2 linked regions of the Homo sapiens genome follow. The protein of the gene in region 1 purifies or fractionates together with the protein of each later gene. This does not show direct contact. Each region holds a gene or a part of one and is shown on either strand. Other genes may lie near its edges. The genes, in order: ARL8A and RDH14.

Region 1 (3,911 bases):
GCAACAAGAGCGAAACTCCGTCTCAAAAAAAAAAAAGGAACCTAAAACATCCTTTGAGTTCTGAAAAAGTTGTGATGCTAGAAAAGTGGGAGATGTTTTGTCCTAGGAAACAACAGGGTCATTTTCAAATATTTAAAAGTGTCAAAGACTGTCCTATGGAATAACTAGTCTTGGAGTGCCCAAGGGGACTTAGGAACAATGGGTGGACATTCTAGGAATGATAGATTTTTTTTTCTTTTTTTTCTTTTTTCTTTTTTTTTTTTGAGACAGAGTGTTGCTCTATCACCCAGGCTGGGAGTGCAGTGGTACAGTCTCGGCTCACTGCAACCTCCGCCTCCCAGGCTCAAGCAATTCTCCTGCCTCAGTCTCCCGAGTAGCTGGGATTACAGGCATACACCACCATGCCTGGCTAATTTTTGTATTTTTAGTAGAGATGGGGTTTCGTCATGTTGGCCAGGCTGGTCTCGAACCCCTGACCTCAGGTGATCTGCCTGCCTCAGCCTCCCAAAGTGCTGGGATTACAGGTATGAGCCACCATGTCCGGCCGGATTGTTAACTCAATATAAAGAACTTTCTGATAGTTGGAACTGACCCAAGAGGGGATGGGGCAGAAGGGACTGAAGTCTGAGACAAGAGGTTGGGCTGCATGACTTCAGGTTACTTCCAACCTTAAATGAGGAGCCTATGAGACAGGGAGGCATTAGCAGGGAAATTAAGTCATAATCTGATTCCACCTTAGCTCCGATTCACAGCTGAACAAGACCTACTGGTGCCGGGGAGCCTGGCTCCTTGAAGGTCCTCCCAGCATCCCCCTCTGCCAAGGTCACATTCTGCCAGGCTGGGCTTCTCATTTACTTGGTAGCCTGTGGATCTTCTAGTTGCCAAAGAGCAGTGATGGTTCCCCATGCTATATCGAAACCATTTCCAAGCATGTTGTGAGTCTTATTTACAGTTCCTAGGAGACCGAAACCCTTCTCCCCAGTTTTACATTCAGAAACACTGAGGTCCAGAGAAGTTCAAGTTTCTTATCCAAGCACCCCCTGGGATGAGAGACAAACAAGAACTGGGCCTCCTTCCTCAGACTCTATTGTTGGGGATGGGGTAGACTGCAGCAGGCTGCCGGGGTTTGGGTAATTACAGCACACTTAATTCTCCCTGCTTAGCTAGAAGAAGCCATTCCCTCTTCCTCAGTGGTTCCTAACTTTGGGGGCTCTCAGAACTTTTTGATATCTGAAAGAAGTGAGAGACCCTTTCTCCAGAAAAATGTACACACAAACAAAACTTTGCACACACACAGATTGTGTACAGTTTCAGGGGGTTCAGGGGATCTCTGAAGCCCAACTGTGGACCTCAGGTTGGAAACCGCTGCTGGACCTTGTCATTGGGTGTCAGTCCTGGGTACTCAGTTCTTATATCATCCTAAGGCCCTGATGAATAGGTGGTTCCTGCAGATAAAAGGGAATTGGGCTGGGCGCGGTGGCTCACGCCTGTAATCCCAGCACTTTGGGAGGCCGAGGTGGGCGGATCACGAGGTCAGGAGATCGAAACCATCCTGGCCAACATGGTGAAACCCCGAATCTACTAAAAATACAAAAAAAAAAAAAAAAAATTAGCTAGGCATGGTGGCACGCGCCTGTAGTCCCAGCTACTTGGGAGGCTGAGGCAGGAGAACTGCTTGAACCCAGGAGGCAGAGGCTACAGTGAGCCGAGATCACACCACTGCACTCCTGCCTGGGCGAGAGAGTGAGACTCCGTCTCAAAAAAAAAAAAGGGAATCAAAGCAGTCTATTCAGATGGGATATCAGGGGTCTTCATGTGGACATGGAGGCACCAAATAAGAGCCAATCATCTCCTACATCTTGGCTAATGGTCAGGGCCCCTGATCTCTTTATGTAACCCAAGGCAAATTATTCCTACCAGCTGGTGGGAGAAAAAGGCATGGTAAAGGAACAGGGCTTGGCCGGGCACCGTGGCTCACCCCTATAATCCCAGCGCTTTGGGAGGCCCAGGTAGGCAGATCACTTGAGGTCAGGAGTTCAAGACCATCCTGGCCAATGTGGTGAAACCCTGTCTCTACTAAAAATACAAAAATTAGCTGGGTGTGGTGGCACATGCCTGTGGTCTCAGCTACTGGGGAGGCTGAGGCAGGAGACCCTCGCTTGAGCCCAGGAGGCAGAGGCTGCAGTGAGCTGAGATCACATCACTGCACTCCAGCCTGGGCCATAGAGCGAGACTCTGTCTCAGAAAAAAAAAAAAAAAAAAAAAAAAAAAAAGGAACAGGGCTATCACCCTCAGGTTCAATGTTGAATGAGCCTCATCTTTTTTTTTTTCTCAAGCCGGAGTCTTGCTCTGTCACCCAGGCTGGAGTACAATGGCATGATCTCGGCTCACTGCAACCTCCACCTCCTGGGTTCAAGCGATTCACCTGCCTCAGCCTCCCAAGTAGCTGGGATTACAGGCACACGCCACCACACCCGGCTAATTTTTTGTATCTTTAGTAGAGATGGGGTTTCACCATGTTGATCAGGATGGTCTCAAACTCCTGACCTCGTGATCTGCCCCCTCAGCCTCCCAAAGTGCTGGGATTACAGGTGTGAGCCATCGCGCCCGGCCGAGCCCCATCTCTTTAGCCTGCTTCCAAGGGATAAGCAGAAGTGTCCTACCTGTGAACATGGAGATATGACCTGGGAGGGAGTTGGGTCTGGCCTTATTTGAAGACTGTAGGTAGTTTAGAAGAATCCAGAAATCCTAGAGACAATACAGAATGGATTTTGGAAAATGGAATTACAGTCAAACCCCCAGTATTCAGCAAACATTTACTAATGGTGTTACTATAGACCTGGGTCCTCTCCCAGGAAGTGTTCTTTCTAGTGAGGAGACACATAGATAAATAAGCAGACGATATAGAGTGTAGGTTATCCTTCCCAATAACTGGAGTACAGTACAAATAAACTGAACCATGGATAATCCAGAAATTGCTTGGCATGCACTGCATTTTCAGGATGACCAATATACTCTGCCCTAAAAAGTTTGATTTTTTAGTTTGAAAATTCATCTGCTTTCTTTGAGATCCTCCTTAACTATTAGAACATGACTTGCTTCAAGTTCTCTTGCTGGAAGGTAATTTCTTCTTCCTCTCCACTGGAGAGAAAGTGGCGTCAGTTACTACAGAGAGATGTAGGTTAGACTTGAGGAAGAATTTTCCCCTAGTCTAGGCAAAGAGATTGAGACTGTCTGACAAAAGCGGGTCTTTTCACAGGGCATCCCCAGGTGTAGGCGGGACACATAGGTTGGTGATAGCCCATCCTGCCTGAAAGCACAGGATGTGCAAGAGTACCCCACAGTGGGAAGTCTAGGAAGCTCTGGCCTGGCCTCTGCATGGTTCTCGCAGCCTCTTGGTCTGCGGTGGGGGCATATCGATTTTTGCACTGTTTCCCATTCTGAGTCTTCTTTCCAGTCAGGACAGTTCAACGAGGACATGATCCCCACCGTGGGTTTCAACATGCGCAAAATCACCAAAGGGAATGTGACTATCAAGGTGAGGGCCCAGAAGCTTGGGGGGTGCAGAGGACTGTTTTTGTGTGTGTGTGTGTGTGTGTGTGTGTGTGTGTTGGGGAGGGCAACGGAGGCCCCTGGGAGGAGCGAGCTGAAGTGGGGCAGAGGCCAGGGTCCCCCTGCTGAGGAGCTGGGAAAAGACAGTAGAAGACTTCTAAGGTAGACGGAGAGCGGGTGGAGACGGGGGAGAACTGGAGAGGAAGCCGGGGAGGCAGAGGAGAGTAGGGCAGGGTAGGAGGGGGCATTTGAGACCCAAGACACGTTTTGGTGGCCTGCCCACTACTGAGGCTATCTCACCCTCTTCTTGCTCAGCTCTGGGACATTGGGGGACAGCCGCGTTTCCGCAGCATGTGGGA
Region 2 (3,911 bases), on another chromosome or scaffold:
ATAAGTTATAATGAGGTCTCTTTCCTCCCTTCCAAATAGAGTTATTAATTTCATGGCCTTTGGACCCATCTGGTACAGATTAATCATTTCATTAAGTTCCATGCATAAACTACACAGCAGTTACACTGCAGGTCTAAGGATTCCTCCCTCCTCTTTTCCTCCTACCCTCTCCTGCTCTCTCTACCTCCACCTTCATCTCTACTCCACCTGTACATATGTATTCCACCCCTGGCTCTAGATGAGAGAAGACCACAGCTGAAACACATCTTCTGATGCTCCCTAATTTTATGTAAACCAGTCCAAAATATATCAGTTGTGACATGTGACACTGAGTACCTACCATTTTGTAGGTGTCCTCCCATGCAAAGACCACAAGAGGTACGCAGACACAATCCTATCCTCTAGGAAACTTGAAACCTTAACAATCTGGTCAAGGAAGTCAAATGTGCAAACTCAAACAGCCAATACTAGAAGGCTGTTTGTCTTCAGTGCCAGTGAGGGTCACACATGACCCTGAGGGTCACACATGAAGGGAGCAGAGATCTTTATAGGCTGGAAGTGGTCAGGAAAGAAAGACTTGAGGTAGCCTGTGATTTTGATGGATGGGCAAGATGTGGATGGGTAGAAAGGACAATAAAGTGGAAACATATGCTGGGGGATCAATGAGTTTGAGTAGCAGCTTCAAATTGGGGATAGGGTGGTGTAGGACCACCTCTCATGATTCCTGTTCCTGGTGCCTTGTATAATCCCCAGTAAGAGTGCTCTTTCCCACCTCTGAGCTCCATTCTCATTACTCATAAGAAACCTCCTGGAATCCATCCCTTTTTCTTTGTATTCTGACTATTAGTTGCATGTTACATCCTTCCCAAATGTAAGGGAGTGGAAGATGGATTATCACAATTATTGGGGAGTTTGTCTCAAACGACACAAGCTGTGGTTCTTTTTCCTTGTCTGGAGAACCTGCAATGGGTGGAGGGTGGGAAGTGGGAGATCACAGTTCCAGAAAGTAAGCACCCTGAGAGCAGAAATGGTGTCCCATTTCTCTGTGGCTCTAACAGGGAACAGGCAGGGCCAGGCACATATTGGATGGAGAGGCAGACGAACGAATGAGTCTTTAAAAGTAGCTTGGTCTACAGCTATGAAGTTTGTAGCTTGAAGAAGGGTCCCTGTGACACTAACCCTGATATTAATGAGGCATTTTACAGTGAGCCAAGCACTTTGCCTTCCATCGTTGTGTGTAATAGTCCTATGGAGAGGGCAGGGAGGCATTTGTAAATGGCCTGCTCAGAAGCCTATATTTACAATAAGTCCAAGCTTTTCCCACTGTACCTCTGCCAGTGTGAAGATCATTTGAAGATGGCTTTCTTTTTTTTAATAGGGACCAATGACATAATGTCTTGTTCAGTGGTTCTCAAAGTGTGGTTCCCAGATCTGCAGCAGCAGCAGCACCTGGAAACTTGTTAAAAGTGCAAATTATCAGGCCCCATCCTGTACCTATTGAATTAGAAACTCTAATACTGGGGCCCTGGTTTTTTGTTTTCGTTTTGTTTCATTCCCCCACCCCGAACCCCCACCCCAAGTCCTCCAGGTGATTCTGATGTGCATTTAAGTTTGAGAACTACTCGACCATTCTATTTCCAACTGATTCATGTTGCTTAATTCTTTGTCTCATCTATGAAAAACAGTCCTACCTCAGACTTCAGCTTGTCAGGGCCCATTCCTCAGAAGGTGAATTGAACTGAATTTACAAGTCCCAAGAGCCCTCAAAGGAAAACACACGAAATGCCCTGAGGAGTGGCATTTGTAACAGGGCCTGTACAGAGATCTGTGATTCAAAGTACTCATCAGACATTCCCATGGGGAAGTCCGCCACTACTCTGGGATTTCAATACGTATGAACCCCAGCACCCTGAACACTGTGCTGGTTGCCCAGCCTCCATCATTAGGCTGGGAGGAGCTTCCACGGAGGGCGCAGGACCCAGGGCGCTGAACTCTCACAACCAATCAGGCGACCCCCCCAGAGGGAAACTACAAGTCCCAGCATGCCCCACGCGCACCGTCAGGGGCCGACCCGCCGCGCCCCAGCGTTCTCCGCGTACAGGTGGTCTCTTGGGTTCCGGTAAGGCGGCGGCTGCGGAACTCCCGTGGAGGGGCCGGTGGGCCCTCGGGCCTGACGATGGCAGTGGCCACTGCGGCGGCAGTACTGGCCGCTCTGGGCGGGGCGCTGTGGCTGGCGGCCCGCCGGTTCGTGGGGCCCAGGGTCCAGCGGCTGCGCAGAGGCGGGGACCCCGGCCTCATGCACGGGAAGACTGTGCTGATCACCGGGGCGAACAGCGGCCTGGGCCGCGCCACGGCCGCCGAGCTACTGCGCCTGGGAGCGCGGGTGATCATGGGCTGCCGGGACCGCGCGCGCGCCGAGGAGGCGGCGGGTCAGCTCCGCCGCGAGCTCCGCCAGGCCGCGGAGTGCGGCCCAGAGCCTGGCGTCAGCGGGGTGGGCGAGCTCATAGTCCGGGAGCTGGACCTCGCCTCGCTGCGCTCGGTGCGCGCCTTCTGCCAGGAAATGCTCCAGGTGTGGGCCTCGGGGGGCCGGGCTGGTGGGGAGGGCCTGGGCACGGTGTGGGAGGGGACTGCGGGCTGGGGCTGAGCCGCGAGGGACCGCCCTGGGGTTCAGGGTGTCACCTTGGGAACCGCTGAGGCTGAGAGGAGTCCAAAAAGCCACTTTGAGGCGGCCGGGAAGCTGCAGGGTTGAGAGGGAAAGAGAAACTAACTGGGAGGGCTGCCTTCTGTCCTCTAAGGATGTCGAAAAAGAAATGGGCCCAAGAGAAAAATAAATAAACCAGTTTCTGAACGTTTCATTTCGTTACGTGAGGACCGCCCCGAAGTAGATCCATGGCCTCTGAATTGTTTTTCCTGTGTCAGAAGTGAATTTGCACCAAGCTGTGTCTTCAGAACCCCTGAGCACTGGGGGAAGTTGCTAGCTAAGGACCTCATATCAGTCCTTTAAAAAAAGTTCTCCTTCCCCCGGCCTCTGCCCCTTTTCTGCTGGGGTAAGGAGCTCGCTGCCACCAGTAAACTCAGCACCATCCTTAACGGGACTGTGGCCTGATTTCCAAGTAGAATACATTTTGGAACCCAGTGGTCATGCTCCATACAGAGACAGGAATAAAAATAACACCCAGCATTATTGAAGATCTGTATGCCAGGAGCTGTGCCAAGCATTTCAGATTTTCCTTTTTGTCTTAAATGAAAATGAAGTGTCCTTGCCTATAACTGTCATTGAAGCTACACAGTAACCCTGTGGAGTAGGCATTATTATCATCCCTGTTTTACAACGCGAGGAAACTGAGGCATAGGAAGGCTAAGAAACTTGCTTGTGGTCTGTCTCCAGAACACTTGCTTTTAACCCTTGTTCTTTCCTCCTGCTGCCTGGCAGTGAGGTGTGAGGATTTCTTTGTGCAAATGGTAAGTAATTCCACATAAGTGGATGTTCTCCGTTGAGATTGAGGTAGAAGAGTTTCTTGCAGGGATAACTGGCATTCAGAGGGCATTTGTTCAGAAGAGTGAAATTTAAAATTAGCTGGGACAAGAAAGGTGCCTATATGACGTAGAGTCTCTTGAGTCTAGAGAAGAGGTTCCCAAATTTTCTCAGTAATTTTTTCATGATGCCCTTAGGCCAGAAATATTTCCCAGTTCATTTATTTAGAAAGTTTATTTTGCCAAGGTTAAGGATGCACCCGTGGCAGAACCTCAGGCGGTCCTGAGGACATGTGCCCAAGGTGGTCGGGGCACAGCTTGGTTTTATACATTTTAGGGAGACATGAGACATCAATCACATATGTAAGGTATACATTGGTTCTCCTGGAAAAGTGGGACAACTCGAAGTGGGGGCTTCCAGGTCATAGGTAGATGGG

The links.
Region 2: the proteins of ARL8A (region 1) and RDH14 purify together in Homo sapiens (co-immunoprecipitation; 2 studies listed by BioGRID and IntAct, with this or other methods). This does not show direct contact.

What each region holds. Positions count from the first base shown.
Region 1 is NC_000001.11:202,137,995-202,141,905, reverse strand, and holds part of ARL8A (ADP-ribosylation factor-like protein 8A), read left to right. Parts: intron 1-3,457; coding exon 3,458-3,538; intron 3,539-3,867; coding exon 3,868-3,911. UniProt on the Homo sapiens protein: Plays a role in lysosome motility. In neurons, mediates the anterograde axonal long-range transport of presynaptic lysosome-related vesicles required for presynaptic biogenesis and synaptic function. May play a role in chromosome segregation.
Region 2 is NC_000002.12:18,558,838-18,562,748, reverse strand, and holds the start of RDH14 (retinol dehydrogenase 14), read left to right. Parts: upstream 1-2,095; 5' UTR 2,096-2,176; coding exon 2,177-2,569; exon of another isoform or gene 2,570-2,573; intron 2,574-3,911. UniProt on the Homo sapiens protein: Retinol dehydrogenase with a clear preference for NADP. Displays high activity towards 9-cis, 11-cis and all-trans-retinol. Shows a very weak activity towards 13-cis-retinol. Has no activity towards steroid.